7 linked regions of the Homo sapiens genome follow. The protein of the gene in region 1 purifies or fractionates together with the protein of each later gene. This does not show direct contact. Each region holds a gene or a part of one and is shown in the gene's direction. Other genes may lie near its edges.

Evidence for each region.
Region 2: the proteins of SUCLG2 (region 1) and AIFM1 purify together in Homo sapiens (affinity purification with mass spectrometry; 2 studies listed by BioGRID, with this or other methods). This does not show direct contact.
Region 3: the proteins of SUCLG2 (region 1) and PMPCA purify together in Homo sapiens (affinity purification with mass spectrometry; 2 studies listed by BioGRID, with this or other methods). This does not show direct contact.
Region 4: the proteins of SUCLG2 (region 1) and GALNT11 purify together in Homo sapiens (affinity purification with mass spectrometry; 3 studies listed by BioGRID and IntAct, with this or other methods). This does not show direct contact.
Region 5: the proteins of SUCLG2 (region 1) and ETHE1 purify together in Homo sapiens (affinity purification with mass spectrometry; 2 studies listed by BioGRID, with this or other methods). This does not show direct contact.
Region 6: the proteins of SUCLG2 (region 1) and DNAJC12 purify together in Homo sapiens (affinity purification with mass spectrometry; 3 studies listed by BioGRID and IntAct, with this or other methods). This does not show direct contact.
Region 7: the proteins of SUCLG2 (region 1) and SLC25A15 purify together in Homo sapiens (affinity purification with mass spectrometry; 2 studies listed by BioGRID and IntAct, with this or other methods). This does not show direct contact.

Annotation. Positions count from the first base shown.
Region 1 is NC_000003.12:67,375,893-67,378,890, reverse strand, and holds part of SUCLG2 (succinate--CoA ligase [GDP-forming] subunit beta, mitochondrial isoform 2 precursor), read left to right. Parts: intron 1-2,385; coding exon of another isoform or gene 2,386-2,429; exon of another isoform or gene 2,430-2,998. UniProt on the Homo sapiens protein: GTP-specific succinyl-CoA synthetase functions in the citric acid cycle (TCA), coupling the hydrolysis of succinyl-CoA to the synthesis of GTP and thus represents the only step of substrate-level phosphorylation in the TCA.
Region 2 is NC_000023.11:130,141,101-130,145,374, reverse strand, and holds part of AIFM1 (apoptosis-inducing factor 1, mitochondrial isoform AIF precursor), read left to right. Parts: intron 1-4,274. UniProt on the Homo sapiens protein: Functions both as NADH oxidoreductase and as regulator of apoptosis.
Region 3 is NC_000009.12:136,412,922-136,417,222, forward strand, and holds part of PMPCA (mitochondrial-processing peptidase subunit alpha isoform 1 precursor), read left to right. Parts: intron 1-1,631; coding exon 1,632-1,726; exon of another isoform or gene 1,727-1,754; intron 1,755-3,369; coding exon 3,370-3,470; intron 3,471-4,029; coding exon 4,030-4,293; intron 4,294-4,301. UniProt on the Homo sapiens protein: Substrate recognition and binding subunit of the essential mitochondrial processing protease (MPP), which cleaves the mitochondrial sequence off newly imported precursors proteins.
Region 4 is NC_000007.14:152,115,660-152,119,960, forward strand, and holds part of GALNT11 (polypeptide N-acetylgalactosaminyltransferase 11), read left to right. Parts: intron 1-1,244; exon of another isoform or gene 1,245-1,379; intron 1,380-1,497; coding exon 1,498-1,716; intron 1,717-3,018; coding exon 3,019-3,123; intron 3,124-4,301. UniProt on the Homo sapiens protein: Polypeptide N-acetylgalactosaminyltransferase that catalyzes the initiation of protein O-linked glycosylation and is involved in left/right asymmetry by mediating O-glycosylation of NOTCH1.
Region 5 is NC_000019.10:43,516,926-43,521,226, reverse strand, and holds part of ETHE1 (persulfide dioxygenase ETHE1, mitochondrial), read left to right. Parts: intron 1-4,301. UniProt on the Homo sapiens protein: Sulfur dioxygenase that plays an essential role in hydrogen sulfide catabolism in the mitochondrial matrix. Hydrogen sulfide (H(2)S) is first oxidized by SQRDL, giving rise to cysteine persulfide residues.
Region 6 is NC_000010.11:67,835,389-67,839,574, reverse strand, and holds the start of DNAJC12 (dnaJ homolog subfamily C member 12), read left to right. Parts: upstream 1-1,386; 5' UTR 1,387-1,563; coding exon 1,564-1,641; intron 1,642-4,186. UniProt on the Homo sapiens protein: Probable co-chaperone that participates in the proper folding of biopterin-dependent aromatic amino acid hydroxylases, which include phenylalanine-4-hydroxylase (PAH), tyrosine 3-monooxygenase (TH) and peripheral and neuronal tryptophan hydroxylases (TPH1 and TPH2).
Region 7 is NC_000013.11:40,799,386-40,803,686, forward strand, and holds part of SLC25A15 (mitochondrial ornithine transporter 1), read left to right. Parts: exon of another isoform or gene 1-1,339; intron 1,340-4,301.

The DNA of each region.
Region 1 (2,998 bases):
TTTTGTTTCACACTCTGTCATTACTCCATGAAAGCCATGCTTTGATTAGTTTCTAAATTCCTTAGCCTGCTATCTAACACCTGCCACAGTCAAATGAATCAAAGTGCACGCAGGTTGTGTTAATGAAATAATACATTTTTACATCTGTGTTACTTACCTATCAGCACTTAACAAATTACCCCAAAATGTAGCAGCTTAACAAAAAGAACAGTTATTATCTCACAGTTTCTGTGGTCAGGAATCTGGGTGTGGCTTAGGTGGATCCTCTCACTCAGGGTCTCTCACAAGGCTGCAATCACAGTGTCAGCCGAGCTGTAGTGATCTCAAGGCTTGACTAGGGAAGAATTTGCTTCCAAGATCCCTTATATGGTTCTTGGCCAGATGCACTTCCTCCTTGGCTATTAGACCCAGAGCCTCAGTTCCTCATCAGCCGTTGGCCAGAGTTTGCCCTCAGTTCCTTGCCCAGGTGAGTCTCTCCAGAGGGCAGCTCATAGCAGGGTAGTTTGCTTCATCAGAGTGAAAAAAGAGTTAAAGGGAGCAAGACTGAAGCCACAGGCTTTTGTAACCTAGTCTCAGAAGTGACACTCCATCACTTTTGCCATGTTCTTATCTATTAGAAGTAAGGCTGTGGGTCCAGATCATACTCAAGGGGGACGGATTCTACAAAGATGTGACTACCAGGAGGCAAGAGTGATTGATCTTTGAAAACCATTTTAGAAGCTGCCTTCCACAGCATTTACAAAGTCATATGTTAGTCAAAATAATGCTAGCTCCTGTAACAACAGAAAAATGCAGAAATTTCAGAGTCTTAACATTATAGAAGGGTCTTTCTCATTCCCATAAGGTCTAAGAGGGTGAGTGGGTAAGATGCTTGGCTCCAGAGAGTTATTAAAGTATCCAGGCTGAAGGAGTCATTGCCATCTTCAAGAAGTGATTTGGCTGGGTGCAAGGGCTCATGCCTGTAATCCCAGCATTTTGGGAGGCCACGGCAGATGGAGTCCTTGAGTTTAGGAGTTCAGGACCAGCCTGGGCAATGTGGAAAAACCCCATCTCTACAAAAAATACAAAAAATAGCTGGGCGTGGTGATGTGTGCCTTTAGTCTCAGCTACTTGGGAGGCTGAGGTAGAAGGATCACTTGGGCACCGGAGGCTGAGGCTGCAGTGAGCTGAGATCACACCACTGCACTCCATCTTGGGTGACACAGCGAGAGCCTATCTCAAAAACAAAAAGCAAGACAAAACACAACCAGAACCAAAAAGGTGACTTCCAGGGCTGCCCCAGCTAGGAACACTCCAGAAAGCAGACAAGGAAAACCGAGTGTGAAGAGTCCCTTTGGAGATTGTCATGGCCATGTGACATTCCTTTGGCCTGAACTCAGTCACATGTCCCCTTCGAGATGCAGGGGGGCCTGGGAAATGTAGTTTCTGGCTGGGCAGCTGCTTTCCAGCAATAGCACTCTACTGCAGAAGAGGAGCAGGAGTCTGTGGTGCAAAGCCAGCCAGGCCTGCCACAGATACTGCACCATTTACAAAAATGCTTTTACACTCATTTCATTTGCTTCTCATCACAATCTATACCATCAGCTATACTGTCCTCATTTTTCAAGTAGGTAAGCAGACTAGCATATCTTTAGAACATGCAGCGTTTATAATTACAGAGAACAGTTCAAGTCCCATCTCTGACACTTACCGCCTCTGTGACCATGGAAAAGTTATTTAACTTCTCTGTGCCTCAGTTGCCTTATCTGTAAAATAGGAACAATAGGACTACTCATAGTTTTTGTAAAGATTTCATATGCTGTGTATAAGTTACTTAGCACTGTGCCTGGCATACATAAGCACTTAATGATATTAGTTCTTGGGAAGATTACGAGGATGATAGTGCTCTGTATGGAAACAAAAGTTAAGGCTCAAAGAAGTTAAACGATTTACCCAAAACTACATAACAAGTACATGGCAGAGCCAGCATGGAGATTTTAGGTAGCAGCTTCCCACATTTTATGCTTTCACCTTCCAGAGAGGACTTTCACCAGCTTCCTCTGTAAAAACAGGAGTAGGTGAGCCTTAAGGTGAAGACACAGTGCCAAGCGGCCATCTTCACTGCTGCTTGGGTAGACCCAGGGTCCCAGGGGAATCAGTGCTGCATCATCTTTTCAATCCACCCATTTCTATTTAATCCAGCATTTGCCTCTTTATATGAAATGTGCTGACCCAGTGCCTCTTTTTATCTGCACTCTTTGTGGTAAGGCAAGTTCTCCAAGGCCTATATTTCAAGGTCTTTGTTTATAAATAGGCTCTGTCTTGCCAACTAGATAAAAGCACAGGAAATGATGTAGGATGAGATATTTCATTAGACACTTAAATTCTATTACATTTCTCCTACAGGAGTTGTTCACTCTAAAATGGCAGAAAAGCAGTTCTCATGTTAAATAGTCCCCAAGCACACCTTTGAATGAAGTGACTTGGCCAGAAGATACTCCAGATCCACCAGGAACAGTCAAGAGATTGCCATCAGAGGCTGCTTTGCCCGTTTTGAAGGGCTCAGCCCATTTCATTTTATAGAGTGAGGAGAAGGCAGAAATGGACATGCTGGATGCGCCAGAGTCTCCAAAGCAGTGGATTTGTGGACATAGCTGGGCAGATTCTCGGAACTTCCTTTCTCAAATCAGGTCACAGCCCAAACCCCTGATGACGTCTGAGAGGGCTTTAAGACAAGTGACTTCTGGTGTGGGCCAAAACCGCATTAAATCCACATGGCTGTGATTATCAGCAGACAACTCAGCTTCCATCAGTAAAATATGTTCATTTCCCTCTTGCAAGCCCTTGCTTTCATCTTCTTTTCTAGCTGGACCACAGCTTGAGATAAATTTCATCACATAATCTTTTCTGTCAGTGACCTTGATGAGAACCTATATTTAATTCATTTCCTAGTGAAAAGCTGTAGACAGGTGAGTCTTGTGTGTCCTTGTGCAAACTTCATAAGGCGCCACCTCTAGTT
Region 2 (4,274 bases), on another chromosome or scaffold:
GTTCATCAAAGAAGGATCGAGCTGCTTTAGGTTTAATAATGCTGAGTGTGTCTTTCTGGGGAAAGCACTAGTATCAAAGCCTAGGTTAGCATGCTGACTCAACTTGACCCTAAAAGCTGTTATCTCTCCTATTTGCTCTTCTGCCCTTCCTCATCCTTCCTGTTTTCCCACACTAACTTCTCTCTGGGATTATCGATGAGAAAAGATTGACAAATATGTATTACTCATAGTAAAATAATTTGGGCATAACTCAGCACGGAATATATTGTTAGACTTTAAAAGGTGAGTGTCTGAGTAATAAGGTCAGTTATTAGCAGGTATTTGTGGAGTCCCAGGATGGTTTTGTTATATTTTATTGTTGTTAATGGCAGGTACTAGAGTGTGTGTGTAAACTAATGGCAGTGTTCCAATAGGGACGCATTCTCTGAAGGAGCAAAGCCCAGAGTAGATGAGATACACAGCATAAGTGGAAGGATTGTCCTTCGTTAGGAACATACTCACTTCTCCTGTAAGGGGACATTAGACAGAGAAGATGGATATAGGTTTGTTGATAAGCCGGTAATGAGACATTTAGTGTCCCCTATGTGTAAACAACATTCAGGCCCTGCCCTCTAGGGGCTAACTGTATTAGGCAGAAACATAAATACATAATCATAACACATAGGTGTGTAGTAAGAGAGATCTGCGCAGTATGTTGTGGGAAATACTGGGAAGGGTGCCCAGTAGAGTGATGACATCAGGAAAGGCTTTCTGGAGGAGAAGGTCTTACAGAATGGGCAATCTTATGGAATGAAGAGGCATTCACCAGACTAGAGAAGACTGAAGAGCATCCAAGTAAAAAAGAACAGCATAAGCAAAAGCACAAGGGCACAAAAAAGCATGTTTGGTGCCAGGAAATAGAAGCAGCTCGATACTGATAGAGCAGTTAGGTACAAGTTAGGAAGTGGCAAGAGATGAACCTGAGAAGTTATGCAAGGGGCCTGATTGTGGAGGGCTTTGCGTGAAAGAGCTTTTTCTGCACTGGGGAGCTGTTGCATTTTAGGCAATTGAATTTTAAATAATCACCATTGGCCGTGAGGAGGATGGATTTCAGTGAGACAAGACTAGAGAGAGACCATTTCAGAGATTATTGCAATAATCTAGGCAAGAGATGATGAGAGCCCAAATTAGAATAGTAGTGGTATGATGATGATGAAGAAGAAGAAGAAAGTAAGAGGTAAAATTTGTATAGTACCTATTCTAATCTTGTAAGCACAGTTCTTAAATGCTTTATGTGCACCATCTCATTTTATCCTCCCAATAATCTTATGAGGTAGGTATTATTTCCCTCTTACAGAGAAATAAGTTGAAATTTTTAAAAATAAATAAATTTTAAATAATTTGCCTAAACTCACATAGCTAGTAAGTGGTAGAGAGAGAATTTGAGCCCGGGTCTGTCTGAGCCACAGAATTGGAACCCAGCTATTCTGATTCCAGAGCCTAAGCTATTAATAACATCAGTGTACAGTGTACAGTACTTTTTTTTTTTGAGACAGATTCTCACTCTGTCGCCCAGGCTGGAGTACGGTGGCATGATCTCAGCTCGCTGCAACCTCTGCCTCCCAGGTTCAAGCGATTCTCCTGCCTCAGCCTCCCAAGTAGCTGCATGCGCCACCATGCCTGGCTATTTTTTTTTTTTGTCTTTTTAGTAGAGATGGGGTTTTACCATGTAGGCCAGGTTGGTCTCGAACTCCTGACCTCAGGTGATCCACCCACCTCGGCTTCCCAAAGTGCTGAGATTACAGGCATGAGCCATCGTGTCCAGCCAGTATTACTTCTTGATAGAAAGGTGATGAGAAGTAGGGAACACACTTGAGGCATGCTTAGGAGTCATGCTTGATGAGGCTTGGTGGTTGGTTAAAGGTAGAAGATGAAGGAGATGGAGGAGGCAAAGATGATTTTCTAATTTCTAGCCTGCATGTCTGAGTGGATGGCAGTGTACCCACAGCTGAGAAAGACATTACAAGAGGAAGAGCTAGTTTAAGGGGGAAGATAAAATTCAGTTTTGGACCATTAAGTATGAAGTGGAATATCTGCGTGAAGGTGTCTTCTGGGCAGTTGGACATATGACTGCCACGCCCAGGGGACTTGGGCTCAGATAGAGAGCTGAGAATCATCTGCATATGTGTAGAAGTTGAAACCATGAGAGTAGGTGAAGCCTCCCAGGGAGAACTGATCTGGTGAGAAGAGGAGGAAGGCAAGGATAGAGCCCTGGGGAACCCCAATTTTTAGGAAGCAGGCTTAAGAAGAACCCACAAAGGAGACTAGGAAAGAACTTAAAGAGCAGTATGAGGAAACCTGAGGACAGGAGCCAAGGTTGTAGGGAGTTTCAAGAAAAAGAATGTGATCCACAGTGTTACCGTGGCAGAGGAATCTGGGAAGAAAAGAACCGTAAAATGCACTGTGAGATTTGGCGGTTCAGATACCTTTGGGAGGCTGAGGCAGGTGGATCACTTGAGGTCTGGAGTTAGAGACCAGCCTGGCCAACATGGTGAAAACACATCTCTACTAAAAATACAAAAATTAGCCAGGTGTGGTGGCGCACACCTGTAATCCCAGCTACTCAGGAGGCTGAAGCACGAGAATCGCTTGAACCCAGGAGGCGGAGGTTGCAGTGAGCCAAGATTGCATCAGTGCACTCCAGCCTGGGTGACAGAACAAGACTCCATTTCAAAAAATTAATAAAATAAAACAGATACCATTGGGAAGTTAGAAAAGAGGGTAAAGCACTCTTTCAAAAGATTTAAATGAGAAAAGAGAGATGGCAATCGGATAAAAGCGTGAAGAGGACATAGAATCAAAGGTGGGACCTATTGGATGGGACAAGCATGTTAATAGGCTGGACGGGGGTGGTGGGGAGCCCTCATGCCTCATGGGAAGCTATGGAAGATCACATCTAATGGCTTCATTTGTTTTTGCAATACAATAGAACATAAGATGGTTATCTGAGAGCGAACACCGTGAGGGTTGAGTAGCGGGATTGGATTGAAGAGGGAGCTTACCAAGGACAAATCAAAGGAGGCTAAAGAAGCTGCTTATCCATCAGATCTCAGTTCATGTCATTGCCTCTAGAAAGCTTTACCCAACCCAACCTGACTAGATTGCACATGTCATATGTTCCCAGCGCTACCTGCACTGTTCTTACCACTTACATCACATTTGTCACTCTTGATTATTGTTAGTGCTTGTTAAATTGTCTTGGCCACTAAACTCTGAAAGCAGCAAGGATCACTGTCTCAACTTGATACATAGTAGGTGCTTAATTGAATGGTCTCAGCTAGTAAAGAGTGGTGCAAAGACTGGGGCCCTATTCTCTCTGACTCCAAAGCTCAAGCTCTTAACCATAAGAAGGAGTAGGGTGCAAGGGAATTAAAGGTACTGGCAAAAGAACAGTTTGGGTGTTCTACCATTGGCCCAAATTAGTTAGAATGGAGCAGCTAGTCAAATAAACAGAGAAAATTGAAAGCAAGCATAGGAGACAGACTGAGCGAAAGCTGAAGGGATGGAAAATTGTGACCAACAAGTAGAATAATTGAGGTAGGAGGAGAGGTTTAGGAGATAACAAGATGAGGAAAAGTATGAGCCAGGTTCCAAGGTCTTCAGTGAATCAGGAGGAGTAGCCAGGAGGTGGCTCAAAACAGTGATTCGTAGGAATATAGGACTCCTCTGATGTCCCTCAGAAGAGAATGAAAGTACAAGAATCTGGAAGCAGCAGACCAGTAACCTCAAGAAGCTTGCAGAATGCCAACACCTCCTCCTGGCCTTGTGATGTGGAGTGTGGGGGAACGAACAGCCTCTATGTGTAAGCTCTCCTTAAGAGAGAGCCAAGTTTCCGTGAAGGCTACAAGTTGGAGAAAGCATTCTGTAAAAATGTTGTAGATGTAGGAGACTTATTAATAAAGTAATAATAAGTAATTCCAAACAGCCATATAAGAAAGGCTGTTCCGATTCTCCTTTTCCACACATGGGTCAGGGCTTTGGGACTGTCATGACTTGCTCTAATGTTGCCTGCCTTCTCATTGCCAATTTCCAACATATGACTGCCTAAAAAAACTGGGTACCAGAAACTGTGGTTCCCATGATTACTTGGATATGGTTTCTTAAGGATCGCTTTAGGTCAAGAACTCATTCTTCTTATTGGGCTGACAACTTTTTTTGTTTTTGTTTTTGTTTGTTTTTGTTGTTGTGGTTTTGGGGTTTTTTTGTTTTGTTTTGTTTTTGAGACAGAATCTTGC
Region 3 (4,301 bases), on another chromosome or scaffold:
TTGGGTCCTTGGGAACTGACGTTCTTGTCGTTGCTCAGATTCCCTCTGAGCCCCTCCCAGCGGGAGGTGTGGAGATTCACGGGGAGAAGGAGCCCTGTCCTGGATGGAGACTTGGGTGGATGGCGCTTACACAGAGAAGCACAGCCCCCAGGAGCTCAGTTGACCCCCGTCAGTTCCTCCAGGCTGTTGGCTGCATGCCAGGGATGTAGAGCAGGCCCTGTTCCCAGATAGAGCAGAGGGCCTTGCATACGTAATGGACCCCGTAGCCAAAGGCGGTAGGAGCCAGGAGGATGAGTGGCTGACTTGGTCTGGAGTTGGGAAAGGAATCATAGGAAATGCAGGGTTGGGCTGGTTCCAGAAGGAGTTTGCTAGACACACGGGGCACAAGGCATTCCAGACCAGGAGACAGCAGGGGCAAAAGGCACCGAGCCAGGGAGGTGCCGGCTGCTTGGTGGAGGGAGGGGGCAGTGTTGCCTCGAGCACAGTGCAGTGGTCTTTGCATGCCAGGTGTGGAGCTTGTTCAGAAAGCACTGGGCAATGTGAGATGGGTGAATATAGATCACAGATTTTTAAAATTGTTGATTTAAGTTTGAATGCTAAAAAAATTACACATAAAAGACACATTAAATGCTAAGAATTAAAGTTAGCTTGGAGGTAACATATTCATGTTCTAAAACAAGGCCTCTTAATACCCCCTGACTCCCAGCTGCCCCTGCCAGGTTCCTGCCTGGTGTGTTTGATTCTCCGACTCTTGCCTCGAATCTCACTCATCCCAGATGAACTCCTTTCTCTGGCCAGGTGGCTGGTGTCCTGACTCAGACCCAGCCCCCCTCGCCCTCAGCTCAGGCTTTTGTTCTTGCCATTCTCCCCATGTGGAGAGCCAAAGTCACTGAGAATGGCTCCTCTTCAGGGTGAAGGTCCAGCCAAGTCCCCTCTTCAGAGGCACTGGTGACTGCGTCCTGCCTCCCAAGCTCCCTCTTCTTCGTGGCTGTTGCGTCTGCTCTGCATGGTCTCCCTTGATCACACTTGATCTCAGAGCACCCCATGATTTCGTGCCTGTCCCATGGGCCAGCTCTGTGCACTTCTGACTGTGCAGTGCCTCATGCCGGGAACAGATGTTACAGTGAGACAAGCTCCATACGAGCCAGCCATTGCTGTCCCCCAAGCCAGCCAAGGCCGGGCATGTTTCCACACTCACCAGTGGGTTCGTTCAGTCAACAGGAGGCTGGGATGAAACACTTCACCTTTTGAGAGAGAGTATAGTTACAAAAATCTGTATCAGAAGTGGCTCCATTTTGACTCAAGCTGTGTGTAGCTGTGAGTCCTGCCTACCAAGCATTCACACTGTAAGACAGGAAAAGAGAAAGGGGAAAAGTGTCTGCTGTTCCCCGATGAAGGGTAGGAGGTGTCCCCTGGCACGCAAAGCCCAAGCGTCCCTGAAATGTCTGCTGGGCCCCAACAAAAGGTAGGTGCCCCTGGCATGCAAAGCCCAAGTGTCCCCTGGCTGTTGAGCAGAGTGTGAGCTCAGGGCCTGGCATTGTCCACCTGGCACGCAAAGCCCGAGCGTCCCCTGGCTGTTAAGCAGAGTGTGAGTTCAGGGCCTGGCATTATGGGCTTGTGTTTTCTTCCAGAGACACCACCATGTATGCTGTGTCTGCTGATAGCAAAGGCTTGGACACGGTGGTTGCCTTACTGGCTGATGTGGTTCTGCAGCCCCGGCTAACAGGTGTGGATCCCAGCCGCTGGCGTTTGAGGTGGGCTTGGACATAGGGAAGACCGGAAAGGTTTGCAGAAGCCCTGTAGCCATGAGGGAGAGCACCATGTAATTGGAGCTTTAGGCCAACACAAAGTGACAGCGAGATCTCATAAGAAATAGCGCTGGGGCTGGGCATGGTGGCTCACACCTGGAATCCCAGGACTTTGGGAGGCTCAGGCAGGCAAATCGCTTGAGCCCAGGAGTTTGAGACCAGCCTGGGCAACATGGTGAAACCCTGTCTCTACAAAAAAGATACAAGAATTAGCTGGCTGTGGTTGCTTACACTTAGAGTCCTAGCTACTCGGGAGGCTGAGGTAGGAAGATCGTTTGAGCCTGGGAGGTTGAGGCTGCAGTGAGCCATGATTGTGCCACTGCCCTCCAGCCTGGGCAACAGAGTGAGGCTTTGTCTCAAAAAAAGAAAGAAAGGAAAAAGAAATAGTGCTAGTAGCCAGGCGTGCTGGCTCACGCCTGTAATCCCGGCATTTAGGGATGTAGAGATGGGAGGATCACTTCAGCCCAGGAGTTCGAGACCAGTCTGAGCAACATAGCAAGACTCTGTTCTCCACAAAAAGGAAAAAAAACCCACTGGTGATTGTAAAAGTCCTTAGTGTTTGAGAGAATGTGTATTTGAGACATCTGTGCCCTCATCCCTGTGGGATGTTTTTAGCGAAATTGGTTCTTTGATTTCGGAAGGGCACCTCGGACCGTCTTTAAACAAGTGGAATGGTGTGTGCCAGAAATTTCCATTTCACTGTTTCCATTACCCTCCTCAGCCTTGCAGATGGCAGGACTTTGAGTCCCTGTCAGGGGTGGACCAGGAGAGGGGAACGTTGGCTTTTCCAGATACCCTAAGGGTGCAGTTTCACAGCAGCTTGCGCTTGGTGTTCAAAGGCTACAGTCCCACGTTAAGATCTTGTGGTCACAACTGATGAAAGGCGCCCTTGACATCTGTCTGTGCCTCTGTTTCTTTTTGGAGATAGAGTCTGTCTCTGTCACCCAGGCTGGAATGCAGTGGCGCGATCTCGGCTCACTGCAACCTCCACCTCCCAGGTTCAAGTGATTCTCCTGCCTCAGCCTCCTGAGTAGCTGGGATTACAGGCGCCCGCCACCGCGCCCAGTTAATTTTTGTATTTTTAGTAGAGATGGGGTTTCACAGTGCTGGCCAGGCTGGTCTTGAACTCCTGACCTCAGGTGATCCACCCACCTCGGCCTCCCAAAGTGCTGGGATTACAGGCGTGAGCCACCGCACCCAGCGTGTGCCTCTGTTTCTAAGCACCTTCATGTCTGGTCTCGTGTCCTCACAGCAGCACTTGGGACAGACAGGTCCAGTGTCTTCGGTGCCTTTCACCAGCAAGGAAGCCAGGGCTTAGCAGGCTCACGTGGCTGCTTCATGGCTGAGGCGGGATGTGAGGCCCAGGTCCCCTAGCTCCTGCTCCCTGTAGCAGTCCCCCTCACTCACACAAGCACCCAGTCTGCCCCTAGATGAAGGCAGAGGTGACTGCCAACAGCCACCAACAGGCGACACTCAGGCCAGCACACAAGCTGTGGGTCACTGCTGTGTTCCTCATCTCTGCCTGTGCAGACTCAGCCCTGGCCTTTGGGTTCTCTTGCAGATGAAGAAGTCGAGATGACGCGGATGGCGGTCCAGTTTGAGCTGGAGGACCTGAACCTGCGGCCTGACCCAGAGCCACTTCTCACCGAGATGATTCATGAAGTAAAATGTCAAACTCGAGAATGCCCCCGCATCTCGAACAGTGGTCCTCGGGACACCAGGGGTGGTGGGGAGGGTGCCTCCGTGATGTTGTCCTTGCAGGTTATGGATATATACAGAACATTTTTTTGTTTTTTGAGATGAGGTTTCTCCACATTGCCTACGCTGGTCTTGCACTCCTGGGCTCAGCTCAGGTGATCCTCCTGCCTCTGCCTCCCAAGTAGCTGGGATTACAGGCGTGAGTCACCGCACTCAGCTTAGAACATTCTTGATTTCTGAGTCTGCTGTTTATACAATGTTCGTATTTTCCAGTTTTTATAGTAACTAGGTCTTTACTACTAAACACAATTAATCTTAGGCTTTTTGTGAATTTGTATTCTGGAGAGGCAGATTTTACTCTTTATAAATACGCACGCAGCTGCTATTGCCAGAGTGCAAGTAAAATATCAGCTTGCGTCGGATTTTCCCAGGGCTGGCTGCAGATGGGCGCTGGTGCTGCTTGTTGGAGGAAGCCTGGTCATGCTGTCTTCAGTCACCTGTGTCTGTGGCTCTTCCCCATTAGGCGGCTTACAGGGAGAACACAGTTGGCCTCCACCGTTTCTGCCCCACAGAAAACGTAGCAAAGATCAACCGAGAGGTGCTGCATTCCTACCTGAGGAACTACTACACTCCCGACCGCATGGTGCTGGCCGGCGTGGGCGTGGAGCACGAGCATCTGGTGGACTGTGCCCGGAAGTACCTCCTGGGGGTCCAGCCGGCCTGGGGGAGCGCAGAGGCCGTGGATATTGACAGATCTGTGGCCCAGTACACTGGGGGGATTGCCAAGGTGAAGTA
Region 4 (4,301 bases), on another chromosome or scaffold:
ACAGTATTTGTTGCAAATGACAAAATTCAAGCCCTCAAGTGAAAATTAGAATTTTGAAAAACTTACATTTACCGCCAGGAGCTTGACAGCTTCCTAGTACTTAAAAATTTTACTTGGCCGGGTGCGGTGGCGCATGCCTGTAATCCCAGCACTTTGCGAGGCCGAGGCAGGAGGATCACCTGAGGTCGGGAGTTTGAGACCAGCCTGACCAACATGGAGAAACCCCATCTCTACTAAAAATACAAAATTAGCCGGGTGTGGTGGCGCATGCCTGTAGTTCCAGCTACTCAGGAGGCTGAGGCAGGAGAATCGCTTGAACCTGGGAGGTGGAGGTTGTGGTGTGCCGAGATCGTGCCATTGTACTCCAGCCTGGGCAACAAGAGTGAAACTCCATCTCAAAAAAAATTTACTGAGGAGATCAGTGGTTTTATATATAATTTTTTGATATTGTATAGTGAAATTTTTCAATATTTGGTAGAACAGTACAATCCAGTGGAGTAGTATTTTCCAAATGACTAATCCACACTGTTACAAAAACGGGTGGAAGATCCATTCAGAGAGCAAGACAGACCAGGAGATATTATTTAACTTTATTTATCTTTGTTTTTTGAATCAGAGTCTTACTCTGTTGCCCAGGCTGTAGTGCAGTGGCACGATCTCAATTCACTGCAACCTCCACCTCCCAGGTTCAAGTGATTCTGCAGCCTCGGCCCCCAAGGAGCATGCGCCACCACTCCCAACTAATTTTTGTATTTTTTCGTAGAGACACGGTTTCACCATGTTTGGCCAGGCGGGTCTCAAACTCCTGACCTTAAGTGATCCGCCTGCCTTGGCCTCCCAAAGTGCTGGGATTACAAGTGTGAGCCACTGCGCCTGGCCGATAGACCAGTACATTTTAATGCAACAGTGTAAAAATCTTAATATGATTTCATATTCCACATCGTAACTAGACTTCGAAAGTTATTGAATTTTGGAGTAGTATTAACCCCATAATTATATATAGGTTGTAATTTTAAAAATACATATATTTAACCAAAACAACACACTGCAACAGGCTAAATGCAGATGTGAGAATTTAGCTGGCTTGTTTTAAGCCAGCCAGCCAGCAAAAAGGTTTGCAAAAATAGAAAGCAGTGTCACTGTTCTCACTACATTTTGTGTTTGTAATGAGTATTTAATTATTTTAAGGAATTAATAATTTGTAGGTTTCTCTGTTTTAATTTCTGTGTGATAAATATGAACAGACACAGCCCACACACGCAGACCCTCCTGGGAGTTTTCCGTAATTTTTAAGAACATCGATGACTGAGACTCACGAGTTTGAGACCCACTGATCTCATATATACGCCTGTTTCATTGATTCTCAGATACAGTTTAAGGTACATGTTATTATCATTGTTAGTAATGGACTTAATCGTGTAAAAAATCTCTATATAGTTGTATCATCATTTTTAACAAAAAATTCGATTTTCTTATTTTTACTTTTTTTAAATTCAGGAGCAGTATTTTTCCTTAAGACCTGACCTGAAGACGAAAAGCTATGGCAATATCAGTGAGCGTGTGGAACTGAGAAAGAAGTTGGGCTGTAAATCATTTAAATGGTATTTGGATAATGTATACCCAGAGATGCAGATATCTGGGTCCCACGCCAAACCCCAACAACCCATTTTTGTCAATAGAGGGCCAAAACGACCCAAAGTCCTTCAACGTGGAAGGGTAAGAAAGCTGTTTTTTCCAAGTGGCTTATGAAAAGCGTTTGATATGAAAAGTTTTGAGGTGTCCATAAGCTATGACAGGTGACACTGTGGACTTAACAGAGTGTAATGACAGGCTTCAGCTTGCCTTTCATTATATTCTCTTTATGGGAACTTCTCTACGCAAGTGTAGGACCTCAAGTGTAGATCCTTGCCTTGCCGGCATAGCTGCCTTCTGTGAGGGTAAGTTATGTGACGCTTTCCAAGAGCGCAGAGGCATATGGGAATACACCCCGGACAGAGGCCATGGAAGTGTCAACTTCGTGTGTCAGAGGCCAGGCCAACAAGTGGAGAAATGGGGCAGTGATCTGCTATTTGCTCTTAGCTCTGGGAACCAAATCACAGAGCAGAGGTGGTAGTGAGGGTCAGAGTGGGGACATGGATTTCATGCCTGGTGTTCCCAGAAGTCATCTGAGCTCAGCAGAAAGCACATTGATCAACCACATTTCCTTAGCTGTCTTTGTGTCTTAAACTCATTACAGTTATATAGTCACAGTTAAATTGTAGGGGTCCGGCCATAAAATCATCCCCTTCTCCTGAGTCATCTCTTAGAGTTGGCTTCTAAAAGCTAAGGGCAGGTACTGTCTGTGTTGCCCAGTGTCCCTTCTTTTATGAAGAAGGCACTTCTCCCAGAGCAGTGTCAACTCTCCCTCAGTGGCTAGGAGGAAGCCTAGAGCTTTCCCCCTTCCTCTTCTCTCTACCCTATAATAAGACAAAAACAAACCCAGTATCAGGATGTTTAGTGTCAGGTGTTTTTCTCTAAGTAGGAGAGAGCAGTGTGTGCCCATGTAGTTGATCGCTTACCATTATTATTTCTTGCTGTTTGTCTCACCCTCGCAGTTCTGTGATAGTTGTCACCGGTGTCTCTCCAGTGTAGCATGCATATTGCATTTCATTGTGTACTTTTTTATACATGTTGTTCTTATATCCCTGACTTCATTTGAAGGTTCTTTAGGGCAGGGATGACATTTTAATTTCTTTCATCTGCTGTAGATTAGTAAACATGTATATGTAGCTAGAATTCCTAGCTGACACTGTCTGCATGTTAAAACTGCTAATAACTTTTGGAGTTATAACTTTTGTCTATCTTGATGCTCCTGTGTTCTGAGGCTAGAACTTAGGAATTAAAAATGCATATATTTTTATGAGCCTTGGAATTCGTACCTCCGGAATAACCTTTCACATTTTGCCTGGAACCACCTCCAGGCTTGGGAGGCGTCTCTGGGATTGTTTCCCACATTCTGAGCTGTGCCTTCTCTTACAGCTCTATCACCTCCAGACCAACAAATGCCTGGTGGCCCAGGGCCGCCCAAGTCAGAAGGGAGGTCTCGTGGTGCTTAAGGCCTGTGACTACAGTGACCCAAATCAGGTGAGTGACACCTCGGGGCTCACAGCCAGTGTCCGCAAGGAGGCTTCCAGTGTAGGGAAGCTGCTGCCAGTCACTCCTGAGGACATCAGTGTCTACTATTCTGGCTTTTCTTAACCCATTTCTGTGTAGTGTTGCGTTATTGGAACGCTAAGCTTATGGGGGTTATCTATATCCTAGTGCTCAAGGTCACCGCCAGGGTCTGATTTTTCACCGAAAAAAACTGCAACCTCCAGCATAAATGGGTTAAAAGGAAGAGAGTGGCCTTAGATGACACCTCAGTCAGCTACTTTCGTCTCCTTTGTATGTTTTTCCTATCTCTGCTCGTCGTCATAGAGCATTTTAGTTGTTTACACCATTATTTGTACTTTCTAATATTATGCGGAATAAATTGTGACTTACGAGCCATAGGAATTTGTTAGAAATGGCCAAGGGAAGCACTACAGAATTTCAGTTGATTCCATTCACCTAATTTCATTTCAGCTTATGTATGTCTCCTAAATAATATTAAAACGGGCCTAAAAATCAGCAAATAACTTCAGTTTAGAACGGTAATTTCAAACTCGTTTATGTCTGATAAAATAGCATAATGGAACAGCAGTCTAATCTCATAAATTGTAGTGTCTCATTTCTATTTTAGTGGTGGGTTGGTGTCACTCAGAAAGGAAAAAAAAAGCCACTTGGGCTTTTGGGTAAATAATGTGTGCTGTGATGTGTGCTGTGAGATGTCATCCAGCGCTCCACCAGAAGAGGTCACGCCCACTGTCTCAGGTGATACGTGTGTTGAAAATGTAGTTTAAAAGGGATTTCTGGGGCCCAGTGCAGAGGCTCATGCCTGTAATCCCAGCACTTTGGGAGGATGAGGTGGGCGGATCACAAGGTCAGGAGTTCAAGACCAGCCTGACCAACATGATGAAACCCCATCTCTACTAAAAATACAAAAAAAATTAGCTGGGTGTGGTGGTGCGTGCCTGTAATCCCAGCTACTCAGGAGGCTGAGGCAGGGGAATTGGTTCAACCTGGGAGGCTGAGGTTGCAGTAAGCAAAGATTGTACCACTGCACTCCAGCCTAGTGACAGAGTAAGACTCTGTCTCAAAAAAAAGAAGGGATTTCTGTGCATCTTCTGGGTAGAAGAGGTGGCAGTGTTGTGGAAGTATTAAAATCGCGGTGACGCAGTTTC
Region 5 (4,301 bases), on another chromosome or scaffold:
TCCAGTAGCTGGGATTACAGGTGCGCACCACCACATCTGGCTAAATTTTATGTTTTTATTAGAGATGGGGTTTCGCCATACTGCCAGGCTGGTCGTGAGCACCTGGCCTCAAGTGATCTGCGTGCCTCAGCCTCCCAAAATGCAGGGATTACAGGAGTGAGCCACCGCACCTGGCCCAAGTTTTCTTTTTTTAATAAACTGATTGAGAAGTGAACATCTTAGCTGCCACAGGGTGGCCGAATCAGAAAGTTAGGTTTGCTGTTAAATATGCTGGCTTAGAGAAGTACTGCTGAAAACACTGATCCCCCAGGTCCCTTAGAATCAGAGAGTCTGATTTAATTGTTCTGGGTGGACACAAGGAATTGGCATGTTTTAAAAGCTCCACCATTGATTCTTATGTGGCTCAAGTGTGGGTTTCAATACTTCCTCCTTTTAACATTGTGAAACGAGTAATTTTTCTTCCAACATTTTATTATGAAAAATTTCAAGCATAGAGAAAAGCTGAAAAAAAATTTTTTTTTTTTTTTGAGACAGGGTCTCACTTTGTCATCCAGGCTGGAGTGCAGTGGTGCAATCATAGCTCACTGCAGCCTCAACCTCCTGGCTCAAGCGATCCTCCTGCCTCAGGCTTCCAAATAGCTGGAACTACAGGTGTGCACCACCACTCCTGGCTAGTTTTTGTGTTTTTTGTAAAGACAGAGTTTTGCCACATTGCCCAGGCTGGCCTCGACCTCCTGGGCTCAGGCAATCCTCCCTCCTTGGCCTCCCAAAGTGCTGGGATTAGAGTGAGCCACTGCACCAGGCTTAAAATTTTTTTTTACAGTGTACATCTCTAACCATCCATCACTTCATCTTTTTTTCTTTTGAGATGGAGTCTCACTCTGTTGCCCAGGCTGGCGTACAGTGGCACAATCTTGGTTTACTGCAACCTCTGCCTCCTGGGTTCAAGCGATTCTCTTGCCTCAGCCTCCCGAGTAGCAGTAGCTGGATTTACAGGCGAGTGCCACCACACCCAGCTAATTGATTTTTAAAAGATTTTTAGTAGCGATGGGGTTTCACCATGTTGGCCAGGCTGGTCTCGAACTCCTGACCTCAAGTGATCCACCTGCCTTGACCTCCCAAAGTGCTAAGATTACAGGTTTGAGCTGCTGTGTCCGACCTATTCTTTTTTTTTTTTTTTTGGGTGGGGGTCTCGCTATGTTGTCCAGGCTGGTATTGAACCCTGGCTAAGGTGATCCTCCCGCCTCAGCCTCCCAAGTAGCTGGGCCTACAGACGTGCACCATCATGCCTTGCTGTAATTGTTCTATTTTATTATTAGTTATTATTGATTTATTAATGTGCCTAATTTATAAATTAAACTCTATCATAGGTGCGTATGTATAGGAAAAAGCATAGTGTGTAGGGTTCTGTACTATCTGCGGTTTTAGGCATCCACTCCGGGTCTTGAAATGTATCCCAGGCAGATAAGAGGTGTTTACTATAGTTTTGAGTAATGAAGGGAAAGAACTTGGGAACCAAATGGAAAAGAAGCTGAGAGCTTACTTGCCACCAGGGGGCAGTGTAGGCCGTGGGAACTCCAAGGCCAGCAAGCTGAATGCTTTACAGGATTCCTTCTGGGTTATGTTTCTTTGATGGGGGTAGTTTCAGGTTTAGCTGCTGCAGGCAACAGATGAAAGAAAAGCTCTGGGGATGTGTCACAGACATGATGCATCATGGAAGGGAAGAATGAATTTGTTGAAAGAATTTGGGGTTAGGCAGGCTGGGCTGTTGCGGAAATCACTCGACAAGTTTCAGGGACAATGAAGGCTGCTTTAGGTCAAGATGTTATATGTTCCCCACCCACAATTTCTTATTTTGAATTTTTTAAAATCTACATTGAAATAATAGTACAAAATATAACAATACACAAGCACAGGCCGGGCGCGGTGGCTCACGCCTGTAATCCTGGCACTTTGGGAAGCCGAGGTGTGCGGATCACCCGAGGTCAGGAGTTTGAGATCAGCCTGGCCAACATGATGAAACCCCGTCCCTACTAAAAATACAAAAATTAACCGGGCATGGTGGCACGCTCCTGTAATCCCAGCTACTCAGGAGGCTGAAGCATGAGAATCACTTGAACACCCAGGAGGTAGAGGTTGCAGTGAGACGAGATCGCACCACTGCACTCCAGCCTGGGCCACAGAGCAAGACTGTCTCAAAAAAAAAAAAAAAAAAAAAAAAAAAAAACAAGCACAAATTTCATCAGCCATCAGAGCAATTATGTCACTATAGGTCATGAAACTTTTAGAACCGCGCCCCTCTCCCCCAAATGTTTTTGGGGAATGCGAGTGAAAATGGGCAAAAAGTCCAAAAATCGTTTTGATTTTGCAGAATGTCAGGGTTCTCTAGGCTATACTTTGAGACTTCCTCTTTTACAAAACCTTTGTCACGTCTAACAAAATATGCAGTAACTTTTTTTTTTTTTTTTTTTTTTTGAGACAAGAGTCTCGCTCTGTCGCCCAGGCTGGAGTGCAGTGGTGCGATCTCGGCTCACTGCAAGCTCCGCCTCCCGGGTTCATGCCATTCTCCTGCCTCAGCCTCCCGAGTAGCTGGGACTACAGACGCCCACCACCACGCCCAGCTAATTTTTTTTTTTGTATTTTTAGTAGAGACGGGGTTTCACCATGTTAGCCAGGATGGTCTCGATCTCCTGACCTCGTGATCCGCCCGTCTCGGCCTCCCAAAGTACTGGGATTACAGGCGTGAGACACCACGCCCGGCCAATATGCAGTAACTTTATATCATTATTAAATATTCAGCTGTGTTCAGATGTCTCCAATTACCCGAGGAATAATTTTTACAGCTTTTTTTTTCTTTTTTCTTTCTTTTTTTGGTAGAGATAGGATCTCACCATGTTGCCCAGGCTGGTCTCAATCTCCTGGGCTCAAATGATCTTCCCCTCTCGGTGACTCAAAGTGCTGTAATTATAGGTGTGAGCCACGGTGCCCAGCCTACGGCTGTTTTTAGGAACCAGGATACAATTGAGCTTAGTGTTTGGCCATTATGTCTATTTAGTCTCTTTTGTGTGTGTGTTTGTGTTTTCTTTTTCCTTCTTTTCTTTTTGTTTTGTTTTCTTTTTTATTATTTATTTATTATTTTTTATTTATCAAAAATCTTTTTGGATCTAGAACAGTTTCATATCCTTTTGCCCCAGGATATTGACTTTTTTTTTTGAGACAGTCTCGCTCTGTCACCCAAGCTGAGGATATTGACTTTTGTTTTTTGTTTTTTTTTTTTGAGACGGAGTGTTGCTCTGTCACTCAGGCTGGAATGCAGTGGCATGATCTCTGCTCACTGTAACCTCTGCCTCCCAAGTTCAAGCAATTCTACTGCCTCAGCCTCCCCAGTAGCTGGGACTATAGGCATGTGCCACCACGCTTGGCATGCTTGGCTAATTTTTTTTTTTTTTTTGAGGCGGAGTCTCACTCTGTCACCCAGGGTGGAGTGCAGTGGCGTGATCTCAGCTCACTGCAGCCTCCGCTTCCTGGGTTCAAGCAATTCTCCTGCCTCAGCCTCCCGAGTAGCTGGGATTACAGACATCACCACCACGCCTGACTAATATTTGTATGTTTTGTGGAGATGGGGTTTCACCATGTTGGCGAGGCTGATCTTGAACTCCTGACCTCAGGTCATCCACCTGCCTTGGCCTCCCAAAGTGTCGCGATTAGGCGAGCCACCGTGCCTGGCTTCGGCTAATTTTTGTATTTTTAGTATGGATGGGGTTTCACCATGTTCACCAGTCTGGTCTCAAATTCCTGACCTCAAGTAATCTACCTGCCTCGGCCTCCCAAAGTGCTGGGATTACAGGCGTGAGCCACCGTGCCTGGCCGCATTTAATACATTTAACCTACTGAACATTATAGGTTAGCCTACTTTACCTTAAAGTGGTCAGAACATTTACATTAGCCTACAGTTGGGCAAACTCATCTAACACAAAGCCTTGTATTTTATACAAGAGTGTTGAATATCTCATGTAATTTATTGAATACTGAATTGAAAGTGAAAAACAGAATGGCTGTATGGGTGCATGGAATATGATTTCTATTGAAAGTGTATCACTTTTGGCTTGGTGCAGTGGCTCATGCCTGTAATCCCAGCACATTGAGAGGCTGAGATGGGAGGATTGCTTGAGGCCAGGAGTTCAAGACCAGGCTGGTCAACATAGTGAGAGCCCATCTTTACTGAAGAAAAAAAAAGACAAATGAAAAAAAGAAATAAAATGTATCACTTTCACATTATTGTAAAGTCAATAAATTGTTAG
Region 6 (4,186 bases), on another chromosome or scaffold:
TTTTCTTGCTTCTCTTCAGAAATAAACCTTTAAAAAGATGTATATAGGTGGGCTAAAAGAAAAACTATTTTTTCCCCTCAGGTGGGGGAATTTAAAGTGTTAAGGGCCAGGCATGTTGGCTCACATCTGTAATCGCAGCACTTTGGGAGGCCAAAGTGGGAGGATCACTTGAGTCCAGGGGTTTAAGACCAATCTGGGCAATATGGCGAGACCCTGTCTCTCTGAAAAATGAAACAAAAAAAGTGTTAAGGCAGTCAAAGTGTTGTGTCCCTGACCACTCACCTTGTTCTCTAAATCCCAGACCTGAACTGTGTTTCTTAGGGCCAAAATGAACTGAAACATAAATTGCCTGGACCTACCTCAGACTAGAGACACTCCTGAGTCTGGAGAACCAACCCAGGAGAAATAGCACAGCCATCTGACCCGAGTTATCATACAGTTCTTCTCATTGTCCTATTTTATTTTCTCTAAAGCACAAATCACTATTTTATTTTTTTATTTTTTGAGATGGAGTCTTGCTCTGTAGCGCAGTCTGGAGTGCAGTGGCACCATCTCGGCTCACTACAGCCTCTGCCTCCTGGGTCCAAGTGATTCTTCTGCCTCAGCCTCCCAAGTAGCTGGACTACAGGTGTGGGCCACCATGCCTGGCTTACAAATCACTATTTTAAATGATCGTGTTTTTTTTTTTTTTTTTTTTTTTTGCATGTTTTTCAGCTGTCTTCCTCCATCAGAGCGTAAGCTCCATAAAAATCAAGACTGTGTTATTGGCTGGGCGCTGTGGATCATGCCTGTAATCCCAGCACGTTGGGAGGCCGAAGCAGGCAGATCGCTTTGAGCTCACGAGTTCGAGACCAGGCTGGGCAACATGGCAAAACCCCCTCCTCTTAAAACATAACAAAACAAAAACCAAAAATTAGCTGGACATGGTGCTATGTGCCTGTGGTCCCAGCTACTAGGGAGGCTGAGGTGGGAGGATCGCTTGAGCTGGGGAGACAGAGGTTGCAGTGAGCTGAGACTGCACCACTGCACTCCAGCCTGGGCAACAGAGTGAGACCTTGTCTGAAAATAAACAAATAAAAAATAAAATTAAGTATTTTAAACACTAAGAAAAGCTCCCATTATCCTTATTAACACATCCTAAGATTTTACCACATTGCTTCACATTTTTTTTCTTTTTTTTTTTTAAAGGATAGAGACAAAAATATATAGGAGATGGAGAAGTGGCTAATGTGGCAAGTTTCTGAAAATAGACAGTCTTTATTAACTCATAAGACAAATGGTTCACATGCATCTCTTATATAAACTCAAACTACAGATCCCAGGCAGCACTGCAATAATAGACACGTGGACTGTTCTTTTCTTCTCTGTAAACAGCCAATGAGAGGCAGAGTTTACAAAGGTCTAGGATGACATCTGGTGTATTGACTGTGGCCAGTCTTAAAGCTAGTTTTTGCTATGTGGAACATGCTGCTCTAATTCAGATTTAAAGAGTTTCTTCCTGTTAATTCGAAGCTCACTGTGCCTCTTGTTTCCGAGGGAAGAAGGACTGATTAAGTCATCTAAATGGATGCAATACTGAATTACAGGTCAGAAGATACTGAAGATTACTACACATTACTGGGATGTGATGAACTATCTTCGGTAAGACAGTGGATAATATTTTTATCACAACAGTATTCTTTTTCACAATAGTATTTCAAGTTTTTATTTAAGGTTTTAACTTTGAATTTTTAGTCACATTGCCTACAAACCTAACCTTGTGTTGTTTTAAAGCACTTTTGGCTCAGAGAAAGTTAAGAATTTAAATGTATGTTGGGATTTTACTTGAATAGTGTCCTATGGGAATTTTACGGAAGCTTCTGATTAAATATGTGTATTCTGGCACATGGCCATATGCTGTTTCACAATATAGTATATTAAAAATAAATATTTGAAATTTTATTGTAATTTCTGATGGCAGTGTTTCACAGTATATATAAGCTATACCTTTATTATGGTGACTCATAATTGAGGTGAAATGAAATTTCTTATAAAATTAGGGATTTTAATATATTTTATTAAAATGTGTACTCCTATGTGAGCAGTCAAAATAGAAACAAAGAAGCATCCCTTTATGTTAATATTTCAAATTGTGTGACAGAAATTACTTCTTGAAAGGGTGGCTTCTGAAACAAAACATGTGAAAACTCTGTAGCTGTTCACTGGATCTGTAAGAAAACAAAATTTTTAAAGTTCTCAATAAACAATTATAAAGGTTGTAGAGGTTTTTTAAATTATGGAAAAATCATTTATAATTCTCTCTCCCAAGGATAACAGTATTAATATTTTGGCATATTAATCTCCACTATTCTTTCTATGTATATTCTTTAAAGACCTGTTTGGGAGGATATTATATGTACTTGTTGATTCCTGCTTTTTACCCATTCGTATTATAACAAGGAATTTTCCATGCTATTAAACTTTCCTTGTACACTTTTTAGTGGTTGCAAAATATTTTATTTTGCTGTGTTACCACAGTTGAATTATTCTCTTATTGTTAAATATTTTATTTCCAATTTTTCAATATTTCAAATAATGTTGAGATTAATATAAAATATATTCATTATTAAATTATATATTATTAAATCATGTTATTAGGATATATTTATGTTTTATAATTAATGTATTTTATTTTATTTATTTTTATTAAAATCTAAGTAGTAAAATTAACATTGTAAAGCAAAATGTTTTTATATTTATTGTTGTTTCATAAAGGCAGTAGTTCATTAATAAAATGTGCTTAGTTTTGTTTTAAGAATAGAATGCATTACTGGACACAAAGGATTAAAATCTCTATTTTTGCCATGCTGAGGAAGTTATCTTAGACACGTTGAAATTAAAAAAACTGCCCCGCCCCCAGAATAGCTTATAATGGTCTTTTAGTTGCATATTTCTTCTCAAGAATGTGTTATTCTTGTTTATGTTGGTGGTGATTTGCTTATAGCAATTGAGAAAGCTTATTACCATTTTTACCATGTGTTATTCACAGTTGAAATTATACTATTATCAAACAATTTTTGAAGGAATAATTTAAAATCAAAGGAATATAATTTAACTTGATAAGGCTGACAATTTGGATTTAAAAAAATACATGCTAGCTTATACAGTAAGGGTCATTATATCTCCATAATCTTGTGACCTATTTAGTCAGTCCTTTTTTTTTTTTTTCAATTTTACTTTAAGTTCTGGGATCCCTGTGCAGAATGTGCAGGTTTGTTACATAGATACACATGTGCCAGGGTGGTTTGCTGCACCTATCAACCCATCATCTAGGTTTTAAGCCCCGCATACATTAGGTATTTGTCCTAATGCTGTCCCTCCCCTTCTCCCCCACCCCCCGACAGGCCCCGGTGTGTGATGTTCCCCTGCCTGTGTCCATGTGCTCTCATTGTTCATCTCCCACTTATGAGTGAGAACATGTGGTGTTTGGTTTTCTGTTCCTGTGTTAGTTTGCTGAGAATGATGGTTTCCAGCTTCATCCATGTCCCTGCAAAGGACATGAACTCATTCTTTTTTATGGCTGCATAGTCAGTCTTTTGAAGTTATGCTGTTGTCTTTTCAATCTACATAGAAGGAGGATTCATTTTGGACAGCCTTACAGAAAATAATCTCGTTGTTAATGTGTAATATTCAAAATATGGTTACCAGGTGGAGTCATACTTCCTTGTCTCAACATTCCTTTTACTGGATGTATTTTACTGGTCTGTCAATGGCATATCATATCTAGATAACAATTATTTATTTTTAATGAAATGTTTGTCATAATATTGTCACTTCTTTATATATATGTGTGTGTGTGTGTGTGTGTGTGTGTGTGTCATTTTTTCTCTCTTTTTTTTGTTTTTTTGAGATGGAGTCTCACTCTGTTGCCGGGCTGGAGTGCAGTGGTGCAATCTCAGGTCACTGCAACCTCCGCCTCCCAGGTTCAAGTGATTCTCCTTCCTCAGCTTCCTGAGTAGCTGGGACTACAGGCACATGCCACCATGCCTAGCTAATTTTTGTATTTTTAGTAGAGACGGGGTTTCACCGTGTTGGCCAGGATGGTCTTCATCTCTTGACCTCGTGATCTGCCTACCTCGGCCTCCTAAAATACTGGGATTACAGACGTGAGCCACCGCACCTGGCTTTTCTCTTCTTTTTATAGGTA
Region 7 (4,301 bases), on another chromosome or scaffold:
CATGCCTGTAATCCCAGCACTTTGGGAGGCAAAGGCAGGAAAATGGCTTGAGGCTGAGAGTTCAAAACCAGCCTGGGCAACACAGCAAGATCCTCATCTCTACAAAAAAATAAAAATTAAAAAAAATCTACTGTTGTATGGTCACAATTTTACTGGTGCCTTATGTGGAAGAACATTTCCTTTTTTAAAAATAACTGCTTTCCTTTTATTTATGAAGTTATACATTGTCATCATATAAAACTTAGAAACCACATATGCACACCACAGAGGAGACCTGCTCATCATCCACCACTGAGAATGAACCGCCCTTCTGTTTCAGTTTTCTCCAGGAGAATGCTGTTCAGATGCAGCTGGCAGTGCTACCTCTCGTCAGCAGACATGCTGCACTGAAACTGTAGATGCTGCTTATGATCCAAGATTTAGCTTTTCTTTCATTAGCAAAAAGCAGAGTATTGGAAGAGGTTGTCTGAGCCAGATGAACTTGAGGAGTTTTAGGAAGGGTCGGAAATGTCTGCGAAGATGCAAGGGAACCCACCTTTCTCTGTCCAAATCTTCCCAAAACATCAGACTTTGCCTCTTTGTTGGTCTTGCCTTGGGTATTTATTATATAGAGACTAAACAGAATTTGGAAACCACTGGGATGTTTAGCTATCCCTGCTTTGAATGTTGATTTATTTTATACCACTTAAAATTATTATATAAGCTTCAAGATTGCAAAGGGCAGTCTTAGTTATTTCAGTAGGAGTTTGAAACCTGATTGCAGCTGCAGGTCCCACACAACTGAATTCGGTTTCTTGTGCACAGCACTGTTCTCTGGAGGTGCCTGGAGGTCTGAAGGTGTGCCCTTTTATAGACAGGAATTCCACCATGATGGGTAGAGCTTGTTTTTTAAAAAGGCTTGGGACTAGATACGATTGCCCAAGAAGACAGTGTAGACAGCGAGGAGGGCTGAGCATGAATGGGATGAGCCTCCAGCACAGAAAGGGCAGGCAGGAAGGCAGTAAAGAAACAAGCAGGGCACAAACCAGGAGAGTATGGCATGCCATGATGGAGACTGAACAGAAGCAAAAACTACAGGCAACTGTAGTTTTGTTCCCTGTTGAAGGAGAGACACTCTATTAGAGAAGACCTGGAATTCAGTTCAGTTTCCTTAGCAAAGGACAAAATGGGGAGAGAAGACAGGGAAACAGTAAGCAGCCACGTGAGATTCTGGGGAAGACCTGTGTCTTCTGAGCAAAGTAGCCCCTCCAGCCACAGGATAGACAGTGACTTCTGTCTTGCATGAGTGAAACCACTGGATCTGGCTCTGCCCGCCCCTCCACTTTCTTGCTTCCTTAGCCTGTGAACAAAGTGAAGGACAGGTAAGAGCATATTGCTTTTCTGCTGAGAACAATCTAATACCTTACAGCTGCATTTTCCCACACTGCTTTCAGAACATTGAATTGCTGGGTGTCCTTAAGAAAGGGTTGGGAAATTACGTCACAGTGTCTCTCTCGTGAAGAATCACTCTGGGTACATTTATTTCATATAGTGTATGTGTTATTTAGTTCATTAAAGATGCGTAAGGCTGGGCACAGTGGCTCACGCCTGTAGTCCCAGCACTTTGAGAGGCTGAGGTGGGCAGATTACTTGAGCCCAGGAGTTTGAGACCAACCTGAGCAACATGGCAAAACCCCGTCACTACAAAAAATACAAAACTTAGCTGAGTGTGGTAGCACATGTCTGTGGTCCCAGCTACCAGGGAGGCTGAGGTGGGAGGATTGCTTGAGCTCAGGAGGCAGAGGTTGCAGTGAGATGATGCCACTGCACTCCAGCCTGGGCAACAGAGCGAGACTGTGTCTCTCAAAAAAAAAAAAAAAAGAAAAGAAAAGAAACCATCCTGATTAACCTTGTCTAATCCAGCACTCATCTTTTTTGAGCTTGGGCCCGTTTTTTTTTTCCATCCTGAGGAACAGTGTTTGCCTCTTACCTGTTGGGGAAATGCTCTCTTAGAGTCTACAAAGCTCTGACATGTATATCATGTCTCTATAGCCCTCACCGTGATCCTGTGAGAAGAGCAAGGCAGATGTTACCTCTCTTAGGGATGGAAAACTGAGGTGCCGATGTTGACCTGCTCAAGGTCACCCCGCTAAGGACTTGAAATTGTGTCCTCTGAGCTCCTGCCCAGTCTCCTTTCCATCAGACCACAGTTGGGGGTCTGGAATATTTTATAAGGGTCAGTTCTAGAGAGAAGATTAATCAGGAGCAGTGAAAGGAAAGAACTGCTTGTGAGAGCCTGTGGTGAATTTCTGCAATCACATTGTAAATATTTGTCTGTTCCCGGTTTCAACATGACCCAGAATGTTCTAGTTTGACGTTTGGCTGGACAGGGTCTTACATAGCAGGAGTGCTCAGGTACATGTTTGTTGAACATATGACAAATGGATGATTCTTACAAAATCCCATCCTATACCTATTACTGTTTCAATTCCAGTTCTACACATTCATACTACATGCAGAACCAGGGGCCCATGCACCTCCTTCTGTGCACTGGTCAATGAAAGTATTTATTGGAAAGCCAAAGTCCACTGCATATCTGATTTGACTGTGTCCTTGCACTATAATAATGTGCTTGGTGTTCATTCAGATGTCTGAGCCATTATTATATCTTAAACTCAATAGACTTCTACATTTATTGACTGCCACCTTTGTCCTGGCAAACTTGGCAGATCCTGGTTAATGCTCCTAATTGACTATTGCCTGTCAACAGGTTAACAGAGAGTCCCTGAGGGAGGCCAACTGTGGATCTGCAGGCTGGCTGCAAGACAACAGAAACCATTTTAAGCTTCAGTTCTAACAAGCTGCTAAGGAGTGAAGTGGGGGAAAGGAGTGGACTGAACAGCATTGGATGGTTTCCACACCCCATAAAAGCGTGTGCAAGTACATTTGTGTACCTGGTTCTCCTTTGCTAATGGTTTTAGGCTTAATTCTCTAACATCAAAAGGAAGTCCTTACTGCAAACAGTGTCTTCCTACTGAAAGAAAGCTCCACTCTAAGCCAAGTCTTCTGAAAGAGTTGCCTCTGGCCATGGTACAGAAGCTAGACCACCAGGGACTAGCAAACCAGGGCCAAGACTGGTGCCACCTTGATTTTATACTAATCTTTAACACTGGAAAAACTTGAGTACCCCTGAATATGGTAAGTCCATCTGTGCTTTTTTTTTTTTTTTGAGACGGAGTCTCACTCTGTCGCCCAGGCTGGAGTGCAGTGGCGCAATCTTAACTCATTGCAACCTCGCCTCCCCAGTTCAAGCAATTCTCCTGCCTCAGCCTCCCGAGTAGCTGGGACTACAGGCGCCCACCACCATGCCCAGCTAATTTTTGTATTTTAGTAGAGATGGGGTTTCACCATGTTGGCCAGGATGGTCTTGATCTCTTGACCTCGTGATCTGCCCACCTCGGCCTCCCAAAGTGCTGGGATTACAGGTGTGAGCCACCGTGCCCTGCCCCATCTGTGCTTTTGCTCACAGTTTGGAGAAAAATTGTTAGGGGATTATATCTCTACCTGAGTAGTTAGCTGAGGAGATTCCCACCCACCCTTAGGGGTTTTTGGAAATCTCTGAGGGTGATCTTGGCTGTCCAGTGAGAGCATGATGCTGGCATTGAATGGGTGTCAGGGAACCAGTTCAGTCCTTCCTGCCCAATGAAGGATTGTCCTACCCCCAAATGCCAGTCATGATCCCATGACACAACACTCTTCTAGGGCTGGAAGGGATCTTCTATCCCAACTCCCATGAACCAGGAACTCGCAGAGAAGCCTTTCTTCTGAAACACTTCTCAGACTTTTCCCCGTATTCGTTTTTTTTTTTTTGAAAGAGTCTCACTGTGTCACCCAGGCTGGAGTGCAGTGGCATGATCTTGGCTCACTGCAACCTCTGCCTCCCTGGTTCAAGCGCTTCTTGTGCCTCAGCCACCAGAGTAGCTGGGATTACAGGCGTGCACCACCAGGCATGGCTAATTTTTAGTAGAGACGGGGTTTTGCCATGTTGGCCAGGCCTCAACTGATCTGCCTGCCTTGGCCTCCCAAAGTGCTGGAATTACAGGTATGAGCCACCACGCCTGGCCTCCCCATATTCTTGAACTCTTACTGGATTCCAGTTTCACAACCCTGCTGGTGACATTTGGCTGCTGGTACTAAATCCATACATGAGGTGAATGCTTCTGTTTTGTATTTGTGCATTCATCCCTCTGCCTAGTTTAGATTTCCAGTTTAGCAATTTCACCTAATACCATTGAGCTTGCAGACTTGTACTGGCTTCACCC